Linked DNA regions of Homo sapiens: region 1 is linked to region 2. A link means that fine-mapping ties the variant in region 2 to the expression of a gene that starts in the linked region. Tissue or cell type: tibial nerve. Region 2 holds a variant in brackets; the other region holds the start of a gene. All regions are shown on one strand. Distances are between the middles of the regions. Region 1 holds the start of TSPAN5 (tetraspanin 5). Region 2 overlaps LOC112267901 (a long non-coding RNA gene).

What was found.
Region 1: it holds the start of TSPAN5, and the variant in region 2 is fine-mapped to the expression of TSPAN5 in tibial nerve (GTEx, PIP 0.95).

Annotation. Positions count from the first base shown.
Region 1 is chr4:98,656,348-98,661,732 of GRCh38, reverse strand. TSPAN5 (tetraspanin 5) reads left to right here and starts at 3,122. Exons shown (of 8, transcript NM_005723.4): 1 at 3,122-3,587. The coding sequence starts at 3,507. It overlaps TSPAN5-DT (TSPAN5 divergent transcript), which reads right to left and starts at 2,831. Exons shown (of 3, transcript NR_148380.1): 1 at 2,711-2,831; 2 at 807-935. LOC112267901 (a long non-coding RNA gene) reads right to left here and starts at 3,010. Exons shown (of 3, transcript XR_939016.3): 1 at 2,861-3,010. RefSeq lists silencers at 2,965-3,144, 3,398-3,557.
Region 2 is chr4:98,675,889-98,681,273 of GRCh38, reverse strand. LOC112267901 (a long non-coding RNA gene) reads right to left here. Exons shown (of 3, transcript XR_939016.3): 3 at 2,626-3,299. Among named protein-coding and RNA genes, the nearest start is that of TSPAN5-DT, 20 kb to the right of the region's middle. The variant T/G (reference allele first, on the strand shown) is at 2,533.

The DNA of each region.
Region 1 (5,385 bases), 20 kb after region 2:
CAAGGAGAATGCCCCAGGCAGAAACTCTAAATGACATGTGCAGAGGCACAGAATGTGAAGGAACATTGTGGTCCAAGTAACTACAAGGAATTGGATATCACCCCTACTCTTTGATCTTTAATTTCTGGCCAAGTCTTCAATATAAATAATGCTATGATATACATCTTGCAGTGTATAACTTTTTCCATCTGCTGGGGTATTTCTTTGGGTAGATTCCCAGAAGAGGGACTGCTGAGTCAAAATGTAGGAGCACTCTGACCTGATATATACAGCCAAAATGCTTTCCAAATGGACATATTATTTCATAAGGACACCAACAATGTATGTGCTAACCAGTGCTCATTATTTTTGTATCTTTATTAGTTTTAATGTATACTTCATTTATTACTAGATTAATTTCCCCATATATTTTATTTCTTATATGATTTATTTTCTGTTTATACTCAACCACTGCGATTCTATATTTTACTATAGCTCTATGAGCCCTACTTATAATATAGACATTCAGGTTTTTATTTTTCATGTTTGCTGCCAATTTTTTTTCTGGTTTAGCTTACACTAAAAAAAGCTGGACACGTAGAAGTGTTTAAGATATTACCCAATCATATCCATTGATTATTTCCTTCTATTGCCTCTAAGTTGAGAAATACTTCTATACAGAGGTTTGACAAATATTTTTCCTTCTGGTCTGCTTTAAAATATATTTAACTCCTTAATCCTCATAGAACTTATTTTGGATATACGAAATGAGATAATTCAATTAGTTTTTCCACCCCCCCCTCCAAATTACTGATTAGTTATCTTACCTTTCCCTTCTCCATTGATTTTTCTTTTTAAGACTTTATTTTCTTAGCAGTTTTAGTTTCACAGCAAAATTGAAAGAAAGACTGCATACTGTATGATTCCTTATATATGGCATTCCGGAAAAGGCAAAACTAAGGAGACAGGGATACAGTCAAACTTCAGTGGCTGCCAGAGACTGGGGGGAGGAAGGGATAAATAGGTGGTGTACAGAGGACTTTTAGGGCAGTGAAAATACTCTGTATGATACTATGATACTATGAGGGTGGGTTCATGTTATTCTATATTTGTCCAACCCTATAGAATATACAGCCCCAAGAGTGAACCCTAATGTAAACTATGGACTTTGGGTGATAATGATCTGGCAATGTAGGTTCACTATTTGTAGCAAATGTGCTACTTTGGTTGGGGATGTTGACAATGGGGGAGGGTGTGGGGTCGGGTATATGGGATATCCACTGATTTTTATTTCAAAGATAAATCCACTTAGAGATCAACTCAGTCATCAATTGCATCTAATTTCTGGTCCTTTTGAAATGTGTCACATCAGCTTAGGACAGACCTTTCTTCTGACTCATCCAGTATTCCTGCAGCGACTGTTCTATTTATATACAGAATTACAACATAGCTCCAATAGGCTTAGGTAAAGCTTGTCAGTACCTTCCTGTTAACAAGGAAATCTGCTGCTGAAAGACCTTACTTTTGAAGTCTACCAGATTGGTGGTAGTATGGCCTGTGTTTTGAGTGGGTAGAGAGCACTTTTGAGGGAGTGAGGATTATTTCATCCAAAGGGCTGAAGCTACTGTTATCCCGTGTCATAGCTTCTGAGGTACTGAATGAGTAGGATCTCCTGGCCCTCCCATCTCTGTGGGTACCTCGTTCATACTTGCGACCTCAATATAGCCTCAATCCTGCTGAAGCCCAGTACTATCTCTAAATGTGGTTTATTGCAGGAAAAAGTAGCTTCTTGACTAGCCAAAACTTGACTGCCGGTTGTCAACTAGCCAGTTTTTGAGAAAAGTGAGAGGTTGTTACGTAGGAAACCTTATAACTAGAGGCTCTCAAACTCAAGTATTTAAGTATCATCTTTTAGATTTCTGTGTCCAGGATCGGGTTGCACTGGGTGGTGCTGGAAAAATTTTTTGATCTCACCTCCTTCTAGCCTTTTGAATCCTTAAAAATATTCCCATAGACATTTATACACAGTCCTGGGCGGTTCTTCCTTCTCCTTCCGTGAAATACTGGTACCTGCTTTGCCAACACCTATGAAAGTGCTCCAGGAGGAGGGCGGATAAGCAACTAATGAGCACACCTGCTCAGGTAGGGTTCTAAAACAATTTCCAGCCACCTGTTCTATTCTTCCCCAGAGTTCAAAAGCTTAATGGTTCGTGATCCAAAAACCCAATTCAGATTCCCCAGAAGACCTCCCTGGAATCCGTTGTGGATTCCTTCCTAGAGTTAGGAGGCAAGCAGGTTTCTTAGGCACTATTCTGTCGGGGTAGGGGGGAGCGTGCGCTGTCCGGGTTTGTGTGGTTGCAATAGACCCTAGGGCGAGGATCGCATCCCGGGCCAGGACTCCCTTGAGCCATCTCTTTTTCCTCGTCCCCATTTCTAGGATAAAACCCATTTCTCCGGTAGGTGGGGAGGTTGGGTTAGAGTCACACAGGGATTCAGGAAGCTTTCCTTTTCAACGTCCCATCCCTTCATCCTTTCCTCCCACTTCCCGTGGCTCTTTTCTCCACCTTCCCCAACTACCCCCTTTTCCATTCAGCGAAGTCCACGACGACTTTCCTTCCCTGTCCAGTGGCATCGCATCTTCTCTAGCCACATAAGCCTGTTGTGGAGGAGGGGGCGCCAGTGTGGCTACCCTGGAAGGGGTGTCGGGGGTGGCTCGCAGGTCCTCACTCACCCAGCCCTCTCCCCGAGGAGCGACCCTCTCGCCCGCGTCCCTCCAGAGCTGCGCCGCTCATCAATCCCGGTCACTCTGCCAGCCTGCTCCCCGGGCGCCCTTCCTTCTCCCTCTCGCCTGCGGTCCTCCACCCTCCCACCCCCTACCTACCCCGCAGCGACGTTCGGGGTCAGCGGCGCTTGGGGTTGGCCCGAGAAGGGGCGGGGATAAAGCGAGCGGTGGAAGGAGGCGGCTACGTGGTGCCACCGCCGCCCGGGAGCGCCCGACCCCGTGCGCGCGCGCGCCTAGCCAAGGCTTGGGCGGCGGGCGGAGCTGCGGGCGGCGCGGGCGGAGGAGCAGCCGGCCGGGCGGGCGGAGCGAGAGGCGGGCGGAGCGAGGGGTGGGAGGGCGCGCGCGAACGGGCGGGCGAGCAAGCGAGCGGCGTCTCCACCAGCATCTGCCGCGGCCGCCTTTGCCCGAAGCCCGGGGACGAACCGACGGACCGACCGCCTGGCGCACGGACGCGGGCGCTCGCTTTGTGTTCGGGGCTAGCGTCGGCGAGGCTTGAGCTTGCAGCGCGCGGCTTCCCTGCTTTCTCGCGGCCACCCCGGCTCCGGCGGCCTCGGCGCGCGAGGGGCTGGAGGTGCGGGAGCCGCTCTCCGCCGGTCGGTCCCCGCGCGGCTGAGCCCAGGCCGCCAGCGCCGCGGCCCCGTGCGGTGTCCCTGAGCTCCTGCTCCCCGCCGGGCTGCTCCGAGCAACGGTGCTTCGGAGCTCCAAACTCGGGCTGCCGGGGCAAGTGTCTTCATGAACCCAGAGGATGTCCGGGAAGCACTACAAGGGTCCTGAAGTCAGTTGTTGCATCAAATACTTCATATTTGGCTTCAATGTCATATTTTGGGTAAGTTGGAGCGCTCCTGGGATTCCAACTATTGTGGCCGATCGATTCGCGACGATTTCCCCCACGTTGTTCGTTGCCTTTACTTTTCGCAGCCCCGCAGGCGCTTGCCGGAGCAGCATAGAGGCATTCGCCTTCCGCCTTTCCAGCTTGCGCGTTGGAGAGATAAACATTTAATCCTTTCGAGGAATGGGAAGAGGTGAAAAGAGAAATCGAGGCGGAAAGGGGGCACCGAGGCCTTCTGGTGGCTTTTTGAGGAACGAATAGCAGGGATGCAGATAAAAGAAAGGGTTCGGCAGTTTGAGAAATGAGCAACCACACGAATTGGATTTGCTCTCGGTGGGATATAGATGTTGGGCAGAGCGTGGTGTCATAATAGGGAAGGCTAATCGGGCACGGCCGACCCTGAGGTCCACCTTCTAACAACGATCTGATTGGACGAGGGCTTGGCTCCGTGTTGCCGCGGCTGGTCTGTGCCATGCTCAGCGTGTATCTTCTTGCACCATCTCGGGCTTTGTGTAGGATGCAGATGCCGTGGTATATGGTCCTGTAATTGCACGTAAATAACGTTTCCTGCACGCTCTCCTCTTCAGCTGGAAAGCGCTCCCTGTGCGTAATGGACTGGTCAGTGGGGGTGCGGGGTAGAGGGATTTATTTGTATGTATATATCATCGTCAGGATAATAAGTCACCGTCAACATATATTTCAGTGTGTTCCTGCCCCACGTCCTCATTTTTAAAGGAGTGACACAGAGCGGGCCGTTTGGGGGAACCTTTGTAGAAATGCAAAGGAGAAGGTGTGCGAGGCATGTTTTATTGGGGAACCGAGAGAGCAAATGCTTTAACACAAGATTCAAATGATGCTCTGCTTGGGACTGCAATGTGTTGGGAACCTATTGTAATTAGGCTGGGACGCCTACTCTTTTTGTTTGTTTGTTTGTTTTGATTCTTTTCCTTGATCTGGCAAACGTGTTCAGCAGCCAGACAAAGAGTTCTCCAGGACAAGGGGAAAACGTTGGTTCAAAGACCATGTTATTTTTCTTCCCCTTCTCATCCCATCTCATCCTCTTCCTCAGTGGGCACCCGCATTTCCATAGAAAGTAAAGATGGTGGCTGTCTGGGTAGGGGGTTCTCTAAGTTGCTGTTCAGTGTGAGGTAAACAATGCTCCAACTGCAGGATCAATAATTATCCACAGCAGTCTGAACACGGAATGTATTTATTTGAATTCTCCTTTAATTTGGGCTGTTTGCTGTACGTATATACATCTGTGAGAATAGTTGTCAATACGGCTCTTCATATTCTTTTTTTGTACCGCACTCTTACCAGGTTATTTTATTTTCTGTTTTCTATTATAATACCTTGCATTGGTCATGTATGTTTTGTGAGGGGAAATGCAAGGGATTGGAGACCACTTTCCGTGTCAGCATGTCATCTGTCTTCAGGACTAATAAAGATAATGAGGGGACACATGAATGGATGTCATATCCGATCATTCCACAGGCAGTTTTTTGCCAGTGTTGTGCATGATTCCCGGGAGCAGTCACCCACCTCCCTGCAATTAAACACTGCTACAAGTACAGGAAGAAGGAATTATTTTCTTTCTTTGCCCCTTCTCCATTTGTGAAAATGTTTAAAAGTGGTGGGTAGCCACGGTTTTGAGTAAGATATTCTGATTTGATTGGAACTTGAAACTTTGTGACTTGGAGAGGCACGGACTACCGAACTGGGACTGGTTCTTTTTGGGGTAGTGAGTTCAGGCCTCTTGTTTCTACTTGAACATTTCTAAAAGTTGCACATTTTA
Region 2 (5,385 bases):
ACATATCTTTTTTGGGGGGACACAATTCAACCCATAACAATGCCTTCATTTTTTTTGTACTTTCCTTCTATAAAAGCAAGTAATGATAGTACTCACTATTGATGAGAATACAATATGCAGTAAAGTGGTCATTCCCATTGCTATTGGAAATGTCAATTAAAACATTAGAAACAATTTAAGTTCATTTTAAGATGTAAATTCCAGAAAGTCAGGGACCTTGTCTGTTTTCCTCACCACTGTTATCTCAGCTGCAAAAACACAGCTTATCACACAACACACACTCAATGAATACTTGTTTTGAATTGATGTATTATCTTGAAATGCCTATACTAAATGGTTATGGTTTGGCATTGTTAGAATAACTAGACAGAAGAAAGTGATGTTAAATACCATACTCTTTACTAAATAGATGGGAAGTTTCCTCTCAGCCTAAGTATCTATTCAAAAGAATAATTTAGGTCTTTATAGAAATAATAGAATGTGTTTGCTGGAATTCATACAATGGTATAAAACCTATAGTTAATATTTAACTCTATAGAAAATATATGTATATTGTGTATTCAGTAAACTACAAATAGTTAAGTTTCCATTTCTGTCCCCAGTAAGGAATTGGTAAAAATGATTACCTTAGGTAAATATCTTTCACCTTTAAAAGTTCATTAAAAATTTCAAATCTCTTAGAAACCCCCAAATGAATTATCTGATCCCCTGATTAGGTTAGGTTCTCCTGTCACTCACTCTCACAGATTTCAAAACTTCTTTGTTGTTAGTACTTATCAATTTGAACTTAAATAATTTTTTTTATTGTTTTAAGGCCTAGCTTTGCTGCTATTATACAATCCATGAAAGCACACTTTTCTTGTCTTTTTCACTAAGGTAATTTAACCTCCAATATTTGCTTAGTGTCTAGCATATATTTGCTGCTCAATAAATATTTGCTACGTCAACACATAAATTACTGAAAGAATGAATGAGTGAATAAATGAATGCATGCTTGGAGTGTGAAGTCTGAGCCTGATTCCCCTGCTTTGGACTTTACCTAAGTTCTGCTGATGATCTTCCTCAAGAGCCTTGTCCTAAGGCAGTATTTTCAGGAATGTCATTTTCTTTCATTTTTCACCCTAATTTCTCTGCAGAAATTCTGTCTTTGAGTTTGCTCAAAATAATAGCCTATATCGATTTTATTGCAAAGGAGACATTGTTTTCCTTCAATAAACTCTGCAAGAATGCCTATTGCTGCTTGTTTGTTATCAGAGGAAGCTTCCCTTTCTATTTGCATGATCCTGTAGTTTTCCAGCCCTTTAATCTGGTTCTCCATGTTCCCTGGTCAGCGGCCTGTAGGTTGTGCCCACATTGTGTGGATGGAAGCTAAATTCTTCTTCTTTTGGTGGGCGAAGTAACTTACTGATTGGGGTCAGGGCTACAAAGAGATCCCCACTGGGCAAAAGAATGCATGCAGTGAAGCTTCCTTTGTAACGTTATTAGAAATTATTTTCTGGCTCCAACAGGAAAGGCTGTTTTCTAATTTAACCATTTCAGGTCCACTGTATCTGCAAAACTTTCATTTCCATTTGTAGGTAATTATAAATAATGGGATATATATTTTTATTTATTTTTATGAAAAGCTTTATATTTCTTTAAGATAGTCTACAAGTGGAGATGCCAAGTCACCCACTGAATACAGACTTTTCTTTTTGAGGGATCTTGATACAAATTCAAATTGCTTGTCTAAATTTATATCATCAGTACAAAAGAGAGTCCCCTTAACTGAACCTTTCCCAAGGATGTATATTATTATTTTTAAAAACAAATCTTTAGGGCTGGGTGCAGTGGCTCACACTGGTAATCCAGCATTTTGGGATGCCGAGGTGGGAGGACTCGTTGAGGTCAGGAGTTCAAGACCAGCCTGGGCAACATAGCAGACCCCATTTCTACAAAAAAACCCACATTGTTTTAAATTATCAGGGAGTGGTGGCATGTGCCTGTAGTCCCAGCTACTCAGGAGGCTGAGGTGGGAAGATCTCTTGAACCAAGAAATTTAAGAATGCAGTGAGCTATGATTGTGCCACTGCACTCTAGCCTAAGTAACAGAGTGAGACCCTGTGTCAAAAACAAAACCAAAACAACAAAAAAACTAATCTTTAGTAATAGTATTAGTGAAAAATGAGCACGATTTTTTTGTGTTGTTTCTTTGGTTACTATCAAGGATCAACATGCTTGCATATATGTGTTGACTGGGTGAATTTTCTCTTTTGGGTAATGATCTCTTTCATAAATATTATATTGGCCAGCTATCAACAGGGACCCTACCAGTTTTCGTATCTGTTTGCCTGAGGTCTTTATGTAGAAACTATATTAACTTTGACATTTTATGGAAAACATTTTTCCATTTTAATATTTGTCTAATAGTTGTTTTGTGTATAGAATTTCTCATTTTTATAGATCTGCTGGTCTTTATAGTTTTTTCTGTTATTTCTAGTATAGGAAAACTTCCCCCTTGTAGAAGTTTTATAAATAAATATCCATGTTTTC[T/G]TCAAATGTTTCTACTGTTAAATTTTTAAATATTTAAATGTTTAACCAATCTAGAATTCACTTTGGTGTGTGGAATAAAGTGAGAAATCAAAGTTTTTGTATTTCTAGGCATTCATCTCATCACCATTTATTGAATAATTTGTTCCTGCTCAAGGGTTTAATAAGCTTCCTATGGCATAATAGATTCTTATGTAAAATAGAGTCAATTTATGAATCTCAAAAACAAAATGTCCTAGACAAATTTTTCTTCAAGCATGTGCTACATGTTATTAATTTGCTACAAGGGCTCCAGGAAAGTGACAGAAACATGTGTGACCCGTATAAAAGTGGAGGGGTTATACAGTGAGAGACAGAAGGCTTGCATAAGTAAGCAGTTTTTTTAAAAAAATTAGAAAGATTCCATTTTTATTTTACAAAGTCATGAAAATATCATGTTCATATCAGCTGTGAAAAAGGAACAATGTGACAGAATGATCCATTATCCTAGGTGTGAATTATACTTTTCAGGTATGTTTTAGAATCCTTTTGTCAGTTAACAAAAATAAACCACAAATGCTTTGATACGGATTATATTAAACCACTTTCTTGGCCTCTAAGACTCTGTGCTCTCCAGGTTCTCTCCTATTTCATTAGTTGCCTTCTTTCAGTCTTCTCTGCTGGATCTTCTTTCTTGTCCCAAATTCTTCATGTTGGTGAGCCCCAGGATTCTCTCTGCATTCTCTCCGTCGATGACCTCATCCAATCCTCTGGCTGTACATTCCATCTATCTGTTGATGGCCCAACATGTTTCTATGAGTTTCATGATCTTTTAGCAACTGCCTACTCAACATCACCACTTCCACTTGGAGTCTAACAGACATTTCAAACTTAACATGTGTTAAGACTCCTGGTTTCAATCTCCAGCTCCTGCTCCTTTCCCAGTCTTCCCCAGTGAAGCAATTAGCACCGTGATCTAACCAGTAACTTCAGGACAAAAATCAAGGGACCAACCTGGATTCCTCCCATGGTCCCACCCTTCATACCCAACCCATCAGCAAATCTTTTATGTCTATCTCCAAAATCTATCTGAAATCTACTTCTGGTTCTTTCCACCCCTACTATACAAGTACAAGCCCATCTTTTCCAGACTGAATTACTGAAATAACCTCCTAACTGTTCTTACTGCTCTATTTTCCCCTCACCTGTACCCTGTCTATTCTCAGCATCAAGACCAGACAGCTCTTTAAAAAAAACCTTATTAGATCACATCCTCACCTGGTCAAAACAGCTACCACAAGACTTACACCCCAAAGTCCTGTTCTACAAGGGCCTGCACAATCTGCCCTCACATTACCTCCATCTTCATCTCCCACAGGTCTCCACTTTACGCACTCTGCTTTAGCAACACTGTATTTCTTTTCTTTTCTTTCTTTTCTTTTTTTTTTTTTTTTTTTTTTTTTGAGATAGAGTTTTGCTCTTGCTGCCCAGGCTGGAGTGCAGTGGTGTGATCTCGGCTCACCGCAACCTCTGCCTCCCAGGTTCAAGCGAGTCTCCTACCTCAGCCTCCCGAGTAGCTGGGATTACAGACATGCACCACCATACCCGGCTAATTTTTTTGTATTTTTAGTAGAGACGGGGTTTTTCCATATTGGTCAGGCTGGTCTTGAGCTCCTGACCTCAGGTGATCCTCCCGCCTCGGCCTCCCAAAGTGCTGGGATTACAGGCATGAGCCACCGTGCCCAGTGCAACACTACATTTCTTGCAGTTTCTAGACTATATCAGGCTGGTAGCATGTTGGGGCCTTTGCATTTGCTGTTCCCTCTGCAAGAAATACTGCTCTCCCAGATAGCCACACGGCTCTCTCCTACACTTTATTCAAGTATCTGTTCCAATGTTACTCCCTCAAAGACCTTCCCTGACCACATCCCCCTTCTTTCATTCTCTATCCCTTAACCCTATTTTATTTTTATTCAATGCACATATCGTTACCTGACACTATACTATATTAAGGCTTTATTTGTTTGTTGTGCCAACTCCTCAAGAATTGAAACACCAGGAGGGCAGAGCCTTTGTGTTGTTCATGACTGTATCCCTAGTACCTAGCATTTTGCTTGGTATACAGTGGGTGCTCAATAAATACTTGTTGAATGTCTTGGTTAAACCTACATTATTTGGAAAATATTTAAATATTTATATCAACATCTTTCTGCCCAGGAACATAGTGTATTTTTCCATTTTCTCAAACTTTAATAAATATATCTTAATAAAATTTTGTTCTTTTCTTTGACTATTTGAAAGACATTATGCATTAAAGCTACTTCTAGATGTTTTATATATTTTTTCTTCTTACTACCATATGAGCTTTTTTTTAAAACCATCTCAAATCTGTTTTAGAAAAGGTAAACTATATATATATATACATACATATACATACATTTAAAAGTTTCTAGCTGATTATTACAATTATATTGGAATGCTTTTGATTTCTGCCTATCTTACTTTCAGCCCCTTGTGTTTAAACAATTTTCAAGTTATTTATTTGGACTTATAGTCATACAATAACTGTCACAAAATAAGTATCATTTTATCTCTTCTTTGTTAATAGTATATCTTTTGTATCATGTGTTATTGCATTGATCACAGCTTTCAGAACTATATTAAACAATATTCCTTTTTTGTGCATATTTTAATGGGAATATAACTAATGTTTTGCTATTAAATATAATGATGGCTATTGGTTTTAATCGAATACTTTTTCTTATATTTAGTAAGTATTTTTTCTACTTCTCCTCTTAAAATAATAGTATCAGGGATTGCTGTTGATTCTTACCAAATATGTTTTAAGCATGTATAGAAGCAAGTCTATTCTTTTGT